Regions from separate parts of the Homo sapiens genome. Here region 1 is linked to region 2. The links come from fine-mapping of genetic effects on gene expression. Tissue or cell type: whole blood. Region 2 holds a variant in brackets; the other region holds the start of a gene. All regions are shown on one strand. Distances are between the middles of the regions.

The links. PIP is the estimated chance that this variant, and not a neighbour inherited with it, causes the effect.
Region 1: TOMM40L starts here. The variant in region 2 is fine-mapped to the expression of TOMM40L in whole blood (INTERVAL, PIP 0.90).

The regions. Positions count from the first base shown.
Region 1 is chr1:161,223,433-161,228,574 of GRCh38, reverse strand. It overlaps TOMM40L (translocase of outer mitochondrial membrane 40 like), which reads right to left and starts at 2,515. Exons shown (of 10, transcript NM_032174.6): 1 at 2,439-2,515; 2 at 1,971-2,220; 3 at 1,620-1,687; 4 at 1,225-1,317; 5 at 838-939; 6 at 586-691; 7 at 267-389; 8 at 71-147. The coding sequence starts at 2,085. It overlaps APOA2 (apolipoprotein A2), which reads left to right and starts at 4,947. Exons shown (of 4, transcript NM_001643.2): 1 at 4,947-4,980. MIR5187 (microRNA 5187) reads right to left here and starts at 1,389; the gene lies at 1,314-1,389. RefSeq lists enhancers at 776-955, 2,470-2,539, 3,000-3,109.
Region 2 is chr1:161,408,254-161,413,399 of GRCh38, reverse strand. It overlaps the pseudogene COMMD6P1. Among named protein-coding and RNA genes, the nearest start is that of TRV-CAC1-1, 11 kb to the right of the region's middle. The variant A/C (reference allele first, on the strand shown) is at 2,255.

The DNA.
Region 1 (5,142 bases), 180 kb after region 2:
TAGAGGTCCAGATGAACAGAAGTTCATGACTGACTTGCTGACAAGGAGGGAATGAGATCAGAGGTCTCACCTGTTCATTTGCCCTGTGGTAGTAACTTGCATGGGCCCCGCCTGATCCCACATTCAATGTAGCTACCCAGTGTACAGCTGTAAAATCCAAAGTACAGAGGGGAAGGAGTGTTAACTGTAGTATGACACAGGCCAGGAACCCCAGAAAAGTCCAGAATTGCCCCCCACCACCACCACTACTTCACTTCGCCCCATACCCGAGTACTTCCCAGCCAGTGTCAAGATGGCCCCCTCTTCGCCTGGCCGCCGGTGATAAACTAGCTCTCCTCCCAGCACCAGCCGATGAGTGAGGCTCTGCAGGAAGTGAGCAACCATGATCACTGTGGGGGAATGGGGAGACATGGAGTCAGTCATAGAGACAATATCCAGACCTGCTCCCTCACTCCCAATAACCGCCACCCCAGCCTGCCCAAGAAGTTCCTTTTCTAAACTCCAAACTGTACAGAAGATGAAGAGGCATAGTAACATTAGCAAATGGGCCGCCAAGATAAAAAGAACCCTGTCCCAGTTCCTCACCCGACTCCCCAATCAGGTCAGGATTTCCTAGGGTCAGAGTGGCTGTGTAGTCATCTCCCCGATACTCGCCATCAAACTGCCATGTCAGGAACTTGGCCTGCTGCGTCTGGGTGGCAAGAGCAAGAAGTAAAATCTCCCTCCCTCTTTATGATCATTATAGACTCTGCTCCTCCTTCCAAGCCCTCAGAGCAGGAAACCCGTGGAGGAGAAAGAGGAAGTGCCTCAGGGGATGGAGGCAGGAACTGTGGTCACCTGGAAGACAGCCTTAGCTCGGAGCCGCTCTGCCAAGAGGAGCAAGACCTGGGCGTTCAGGCTGCCACTGCTGTCCATATCCCCTACCACAGTGGGGAACACCTGTGGAAGGGTGTACACAGTAGTAAGGCTGAGCCGGATGGCACCACTCAGCCTAAACCCAAATATAGAACTTCATTAAGAGTGCACAGCGCCCCCTGGTGGAGTCACAAAGACACACTCTGGGCTCTTCACAGAAAATGTTTCTCTACCCTCTCTCATTCAGAAAAGACACAGAGAATCAGGTTACGGCCCATTCCTCCCCATAACACACACAATTCCTCTTCCTCCAGACCTGGGTCCCAGATTGGTTTTTAGGGAGATGACCCAGGTGTGTGGAGCCCTCACCTCAGTGGGACTGAGCTGCCAATCCCCTGCATAGGCCGCATGGAGGTGATATCCCGGCAAGCCCAGGGCACTCATGTGTATAGTGTGCGCCACCTGAGGAAAAGAGGATTCAGTGGAGAAAAGCGCATTCCTGCTCCACTTCAATCCCTCATCCCACCCTTAGTCTTTTCCCCATCCAGAGGGCCTCTCAAGAATCCTAAATATTCCAACATATACAGAGAAGGTCATCGGATTAAAAGCAACAAGTCCCACAGGCACGGAGGTAAAGAGAACCCCACATCCTCCCTCATTTGTCCCACATAGACTGGCTAGGGCTGGAGTACAAAGGAAAGGAGAAGATGATCCAGGGACAGGAAAGGGGGAATAGTAAGGAGGGGCCAGAGAAGTGGGAGCACCTGGAAATGGCTGCTCAGAACCTTGTTGACAACGAGCTTCACTCCCTCCATCTGTGCTGGGAATACATCTGAAGGGGGTAGGGGAAGGGAAGGAATAAGCACAGACAAAGAACCCCTACCCCAAAAGATAGTCTCCCCTTTCAATCCCATAGGGAACACTTTGGAGGAATTAACCTCCTTTCAAGTCCTGCAATGAAATGCTCCACTTCATTTGGGCACCTGATCCTCCCTGAGGCTGCATGACCCAGCTATGATCTCCCCTTTCCTGCTCCCATCGCCGGACATCCGGCATTCAAGACCCTCCACTCCTCTGCCCCTTCATCCTGAGACACCCAAGTGCCAAGTTCTCACCTTTGCATAGACGGTGCAGCTCATCGAAGCTCCCAGGGTTGGGCAGGGGTTCCTCTCGGCGGGGGCTCCGGCGGGGCAAAGTCCCCATTGGTGCCAGGCCCAATGTGTTCCCCATTTTAGTCCAGAGGACTGGGAAGAGCCGAGGTTAGCCTGTGAAAGGACGCTATTGCCCCTTTACCCCCCAACGGGCCCCACCCCCCATTATCCGGCTCCCCAGCCTCAGAAACTTCCACATGGTCCGACGCTACACCTGGAACAGGAAGAGTAGGGAAGGAGAGCACTCATGGAGAGACAACCCTAGGCACACTCCCGCCCCATCTTTGATCTCTCACCCCCACTTGTCACCCTTGTCCTCTCTCCCTTTCTCTGATCCTAGCCCCCACCACAGACTTCACCTAGCTCCCTAGCCTCTCTATTCTTCATTCCCAGGCCCCAAGACCAGGCCCGCAATGGTGCAGTATCCCTTACCATCTCAGACCATCATGCTGCCCCTTTCCCCCCGGCACACCCCGGTCATCTTGATGGGGGCAGCCATCTTGAGTGATGGCAGAACTGCAGCTTCACGCTGCATTCTTAGCGTGGCCGTAAGCGCCATCTTTGAATCTGGCAAAGAAAGCTGTCAAAGACCCAACCCAACCCTGATTGGGCCCCGCCCAATCAATGAAAAAAAAAAAAAAAAAAAAAAGCCTCGCTATTTACCATGGGCCAATGGGAAGGGAGGAAGAAAATGAGTGGCAGGTCTGACGGCCCAAGAGCTTCAACCCTGGAGCTGCAGAGGCGGGCAGGACTTGATTGGTGGCCCCTTAGACTTAAGTGGAAGGCTTTAGATCACTAGGCCTCTCCAAGGTCGGAAAAAAACTTGTGAGCGTACAAGACACTAGAGGGAGCATCTTGTAGCTTGGGCCACTGAAGCTCCTTCCACCCATGTAGTTTCATCCATGAGAAAAGTGGAACTACAGCTTGTAGACTGGCATAGTGTGAAGGGTGGCAGAAAGAACGATTATGAAGACTTCTTTGGAACCCTGGTTCATTTCTATCGCTCCCTTCTCTCCAAAGAACCCATGGGAAATCCTCCTCACAGCCCTCCACAGCACACCTCCAAATGAGTACTACTCATTAAGCGCAGCACTCCCTAGAACAGGGACCCACCCTTCTCTTCTGGAGGTCTACATCTCTCGAAGTCCCCGCTCTTGACCACTTGGTGGAATGGAAACGGGTGTGAGAGTTTGGCGCAGAGGAGTAAGTTCTAGCAGAACTATTCGCTGAAACAGCTGCTTTCTGTATTTAACCCTTCCTTCCCTGAGTCCCAAGGCAGAGTTGGCAAATAAAATCTAGGAATATGGAGCCTGGCCCCCAAAGGCACTCCATCCCAGGACCAGGGACAAGCCAAAGGGCTGACCTCAAGCACTAAGCGCTCCACAGGGGAATAATTGAAAATGGAGTAAGAGTTCTTGGTCTTGGAGGGTGAAGGGTGGGAGGAGGGAGAAGATCAGGAAAAATAACTAATGGATATTAGGCTTAATACCTGGGTGATGAAATAATCTGTACAACAAATCCCCATGACACAAGTTTACGTGTGTAACAAACTTGCATATATAGGCCAGGGGCGGTGGCTGATGCCTGTAATCCTAGCACTTTGGGAGGCCGAGGCGGGCAGATCACCTGAGGTCGGGAGTTCAAGACCAGCCTGACCAACATGGGGAAACCCCGTCTCTACTAAAAGTACAAAATTACCCGGGCGTGGTGGCGCATGTCTGTAATCCCAGCTACTTGGGATGCTGAGGCAGGAGAATCCTTGAACCCGGGAGGTGGAGGTTGCAGTGAGCCGAGATCATGCCATTACGCTCCAGCCTGAGCAACAAGAGCAAAACTCCGTCTCAGGAAAACAAACAAAAAAACCTGCACATATACTTCTGAATTTAAAACAAAAGTTAAAAAACAAAGATTTCTTGGTCTCTGGTCACTACCTCCCTCATCAGCTTTGCGCCTCCACTGTCACCCTCAGGAATGTTCCACATACTCAGCGAGTATGCTTGGGGGGCAAAAGGGTGAAAGATACAAAAGCTTCTGATATCTATTTAACTGATTTCACCCAAATGCTTTGAACCTGGGAATGTACCTCTCCCCCTCCCCCACCCCCAACAGGAGTGAGACAAGGGCCAGGGCTATTGCCCCTGCTGACTCAATATTGGCTAATCACTGCCTAGAACTGATAAGGTGATCAAATGACCAGGTGCCTTCAACCTTTACCCTGGTAGAAGCCTCTTATTCACCTCTTTTCCTGCCAGAGCCCTCCATTGGGAGGGGACGGGCGGAAGCTGTTTTCTGAATTTGTTTTACTGGGGGTAGGGTATGTTCAGTGATCAGCATCCAGGTCATTCTGGGCTCTCCTGTTTTCTCCCCGTCTCATTACACATTAACTCAAAAACGGACAAGATCATTTACACTTGCCCTCTTACCCGACCCTCATTCCCCTAACCCCCATAGCCCTCAACCCTGTCCCTGATTTCAATTCCTTTCTCCTTTCTTCTGCTCCCCAATATCTCTCTGCCAAGTTGCAGTAAAGTGGGATAAGGTTGAGAGATGAGATCTACCCATAATGGAATAAAGACACCATGAGCTTTCCATGGTATGATGGGTTGATGGTATTCCATGGGTTGATATGTCAGAGCTTTCCAGAGAAATAACTTGGAATCCTGCTTCCTGTTGCACTCAAGTCCAAGGACCTCAGATCTCAAAAGAATGAACCTCAAATATACCTGAAGTGTACCCCCTTAGCCTCCACTAAGAGCTGTACCCCCTGCCTCTCACCCCATCACCATGAGTCTTCCATGTGCTTGTCCTCTCCTCCCCCATTTCTCCAACTTGTTTATCCTCACATAATCCCTGCCCCACTGGGCCCATCCATAGTCCCTGTCACCTGACAGGGGGTGGGTAAACAGACAGGTATATAGCCCCTTCCTCTCCAGCCAGGGCAGGCACAGACACCAAGGACAGAGACGCTGGCTAGGTAAGATAAGGAGGCAAGATGTGTGAGCAGCATCCAAAGAGGCCTGGGCTTCAGTTGTGGAGAGGGAGAGAGCCAGGTTGGAATGGGCAGCAGGTAGGGAGATCCCTGGGGAGGAGCTGAAGCCCATTTGGCTTCAGTGTCCCCCAAACCCCCACCACCCTC
Region 2 (5,146 bases):
ACAATACGGTAATAGTGGGGAGAGGGTCAGCAGGAAAACATATGAGCAAAGGTCTCTGTGTCATAAATAAGTTTGAGGAAAGGTGCTGTGCCTTGATGTGCATGTACACAAACATCTCGGTGCATTAAAGAGCAGTATTGCCACCAGCATGTCTCACCTCCAGCCCCAAGGCGGTTTTCTCCTATCTCAGTAAATAGAACGTACAGTCGGGTCTTACACCGAGACATTCCATTCCCAAGGATGAGCAGGAGACAGATGCCTTCCTCTTATCTCAACTGCAAAGAGGCCTTCCTCTTTCAGTAATCCTCCTCATCACAGACCCTTTAAGGGTGTGGGGCTGGGGGACAGTCAGGTCTTTCCCTTCCCATGAGGCCATATCTCAGGCTATCAGATGGGGAGAAACCTTGGACAATATCTGGCTTTCCTGGGCAGAGGTCCCTGCAGCCTTCCGCAGTATATGTGTCCCTGGGTACTCGCGAGTAGAGAATGGCAATGACTTTTACCAAGCATACTGCGTTCAAACACTTTTTTTAACAAAGCACATCCTGCACAGCCCTAAATCCATTAAACCTTGAGTCAATGGCCAGGCGCTGTGGCTCACGCCTGTAATCCCAGCACTTTGGGAGGCCAAGGTGGGCGGATCACGAGGTCAGGAGATGGAGACCATCCTGGCTAACACGGTGAAACCCTGTCTCTACTAAAAATACAAAAAATTAGCCGGGTGTTGTGGCGGGTGCCTGTAGTCCCAGCTACTCGGGAGGCTGAGGCAGGAGAATGTGGTGAACCCCAGAGGCGGAGCTTGCAGTGAGCGGAGATGGCGCCACTGCACTCCAGCCTGGGAGACAGAGTGAGACTCTGTCTCAAAAAAAAAAAAAACCTGGAGTCAACACAGCACATGTCTCTGGGGCACAGGGTTGGGGCTAGGGTTACAGATTAACAGCATCTCAAGGCAGGCAGAAGAGTTTTTCTTAGTACAGAACAAAATGCAGTTTTTTTGGTTTTTTTTGAGACGGAGTCTCACTCTGTCGCCCAGACTGGAGTGCAGCGGCGCAATCTCGGCTCACTGCAACCTCTGCCTCCTGGGTTCAAGCGATTCTCCTGCCTCAGCTTCCCGAGTAGCTGGGACTACACATATGCGCCACCATGCCTGGCTAATTTTGTATTTTTAGTAGAGACGGGGTTTCACCATGTTGGTCAGGTTGGTGTAAACTCCTGATCTCAGGTGATCCACCCACCTCAGCCTCCCAAAGTGCTGTGATTACAGGCGTGAGCCACCGCGCCTGGTCAGAGCTTGTAGATTTTTTTCTTTTTTTTTTTTTGACAGTCTCGCTCTATCGCCCAGGTTGGAGTGCAGTGGCGTGATCTTGGCTCACTGCAAGCTCTGCCTCCCAGGTTCATGCCATTCTCCTGCTTCAGCCTCCTGAGTAGCTGGGACTACAGGCACCCGCCACCATACCTGGCTAATTTTTTTGTGTTTTTAGTAGAGAGGGGGTTTCGCCGTGTTAGCCAGGATGGTCTCCATCTCCTGACCTTGTGATCCACTCGCCTCGGCCTCCAAAAATGCTGGGATTACAGACATGAGCCACCACGCCTGGCTGAGCTTGTAGATTTTCAATGGAAACTGGGTTTGGCTGTGAGATGTGACAGTTGCAGATCTCTTAAGTATCCTTATGTTGCAGTGATGCTAAAAGTGCCACTCATTCAGTCCAAGTAAAGAACAAGTCCTTTGAAATGACAATTCCACAGTTTCAGAATTTATGCAGACAATTCAAGGAGATTGCTGCAGTTATTGAAACTATGTGAAATGGATTATTTGGTTGATAAATTACTATCATTCTAAAGTCATGGACTTCACTTTCTGCAACAAAACCGCATAAGAATGAAGTATTTATTGAATGAAAAATTGCACTTTTGTTTTTTTTCTTTTTTTTGAGATGGAGTTTCACTCTTTGTTGCCCAGGCTGGAGTGCAGTGGCATGATCTCGGCTCACTGCAACCTCTGCCTCCCAGGTTCAAGGGACTCTCCTGCTTCAGCCTCCTGAGTAGCTGAGATTACAGGTGCCCACCACCACACCCCGCTAATTTTTGTATTTTTAGTAGAGATGGGGTTTCACCATGTTGGCCAGGCTGGTCTCGAACTCCTGACCTCAGGTGATCCGCCCAGCTCGGCCTCCCAAAGTGCTGGATTACAGATGTGCGCCACCACATCCAGCTGTTTTTCCATTTTTAAAAATAATTTTAAAAATTCAGACAA[A/C]AAAAAGATAATAGCGGCCAGGCTCATTAGCTCACAGCTGCAATCCCAGCACTTTGAGAGGGTGGGTGGATCACTTGAGCTTGTGGGGGAAAGAAAGAGAGATCAGACTGTTACTGTGTCTATGTAGAAAGAAGTAGACATAAGAAACTGCATTTTGTGCCAGGTGCCTTGAACCCAGGAGCTGAGAACGTGCTAAGGAAGGAGACCACTACTACTCCTGCTGCCCTCCTCCCCCCACCTTGCCTAGTTCACAAGACAGGAGGAAAGAGAGAAAGCCAAAAGTTGGAAAAAAAACAAAAGTGAGATAAATAGCCAGACAATCTTGACACCACCACCTGGCCCTAGGAGTTAAAAAAAGTTATAATAATAACATCAACCCCTGACCTAAACTACTTGTGTTATCTATAAATTCCAGACACTGTATGAAAAAAGCACTGTAAAACTTTTTGTTCTGTTAGCTGATGCATGTAGCCCCCAGTCACGTTTCCCACGCTTGCTCAATTTATCACGACCCTTTCATGTGGACCCCTTAAAGTTGTAAGCCTTTAAAAAGGCCAATAATTTCTTTTTCGGGGAGCTCAGCTCTTAAGGCGCAAGTCGGCTGATGCTCCCGGCAGAATAAACCACTTCCTTCTTTAATCCGGTGTCTGAGGAGTTTTGTCTGTGGCTCGTCCTGCTGCATTTCTTGGTTCCCTGACCAGGAAGTGAGGGGATTAATGGAAGGCCAAGGCAGCCCCTTAGGCAGCTTAGGTCTGCCCTGTAGAGCATCCCTGCGGGGGACTCTGGCCAGCTTGAGCCATGCAGATCCTGAGAGCGCTCCCAGGTAGGCATTTGTCCTGGTGGAATGCCTTGTCAGAGCAGTGCACAGCAGGCCCCCGCAGAGGATCAATGCAGTAGCTGAACACCGGGAAGGAACTGGCACTTTAAGTCCAGACATCTAAAACTTGGTAAGACTGGTCTTTGGATCTTGCCCACTCCATTTGAGTGGAAGCATGGCCTGATCACCCATGGCGTGCCTGTACCAGCACTTTGGTTTTTGTTTTTGACTTGACTTGAATTGCTTGACTCTTTGGTTTTAGTTTTGATTTTGATTTGACTTGAATTGCTTGATAAACAGGCATGCCTTTATTGGCACTTTGGTTTTGGTTCTGATTTTGACTTGGCTTAAATTGCTTGATGAACAGGTGTGCCTTTAACAACACTTTGGTTTTCGTTTCGATTTTGATTTAGTGTGAATTAGACAAGTGAGTGACCTTTTACCCTTTCCTTCTTGTAGTGTGAATGTTGTTTTGTCTCAAGAGAAAAATAGGTCAGACACAAAGTAAGCCCACTCCGCTAGGAACTGTGTAAAAAATTTTCAAAAAGAAAAATAAAAGGATAGTCATCAAATCATCAAAACTTACTCTATTAAAATGTATGTTACAGAACCTTAAGAAAGGTTTCACAGGAGATTACAGAGTTAAGTTAACCCCCTAGAGGTTAGGAACTCTGTGTGAATTAGAATTGCCCTCTTTTGGTGTTGGATGGCCCACCGAAGGAACTATAGACAGGGAACAATTGGCCATGTATTTAAGGTGGTGACAGGGGTCAGAGGACAGCCAGTGTACCTAGATTAAATTCCTTTATATTGACTCATGGTTAAATATAATATAGACAAAACCAGCATAAATTTAGCCCTGTTTAACAGCTTATTGCAAAAAAGCCAAAAGTAAAAGTAAGAGCAGCTTCGCCAGCAGTCAGAGTTAAAAAGGGAGTCCCAGAAACAGCAAAAGAAGCCAGTTTTGCAGGAGCCACCAAAGATAATAGAAATTATTTCTCCACATATCCCAGCCTACCCACCTTTACTGAAGCCAACAGCCCCCTCAGAAATGAGATTCAGGAGCTAACAGGCCCCAGGTCTCACCTCGAAGGGGAGGATTGGAGCCTCGAGAGGCCAAGGAAGAAGGTCAAGATAGTCAAGTGGGCCGTCTCAGATCTGGTCTTGCTGGAGCTATGCAAATGCCTCTCAGGAAGACACCAGGACCTGTCTATTATAATGACCAGGCCCACATCTTGGGGGGCAACAGACTTTCATCTATCAGCCCTTTTCAACCATTGATCTACTAAACTGGAAACACCCTGAACCTGCCACCTTGCTCCCAGCAGCTAGAGCCCTGTCGAGCATAACAGTGCAGAGGTGTTGGACTCAAGTTTACTCTAGCAGACCTGACCTCCGGGACCAGCCTTGGGCATCAGTAGACTGGGAGCTATACAGCTTCATCAACCCACAAGGAGAGAGATATGCAGAATATGCAGTGGTAACCCTGGACACTGTTGTTAAGCTGAGCTCATTGCTTTAATTCGGGTCTTAGAACTCAGTGAAGGTAAGACTGTAAACATTTACACTGACTCTCAGTATGCCTGTTTAACCCTCCAAGTGCATGAAAAATTATATAAAGAAAAGGGCCTGTTAAACTCCAGGAAAAAGGGGAAAAAAGGCCCAGAGAATGCAACTCAGCTTCAGTGTTTGCAGAGGTACTGAGAAGCACTTCTGCAGAGGTTAAGAGTTGGTAGAAAAAAGCAAGTAATATAAAAAAGATTTCAGGAATGCTTTAAGGAGCTGGCAAGAGCCTAAGTCAGTTTTATAAGAGACTCTATACAGCATTCTGGCTTTACACCCCATTTAACCCTGAGGCTGCTGAAAATCAGTATATAGTGAATACTTCATTTGTAAAGCAAGCCTACGGTAACAGCAAGCAGAAGCTGCAGGCATGAATACCACCTAGTCTATAAAAGTGGCCACCAAGGTGTACGTTAACTGTGACCAAGGAACAAAACTGGGAAAGAGCAAAAGAAAAAGAAAGACTAAGTGTGAAAAAGAGAATCAGAAGGAAACAGGAGAGACAGACAGCA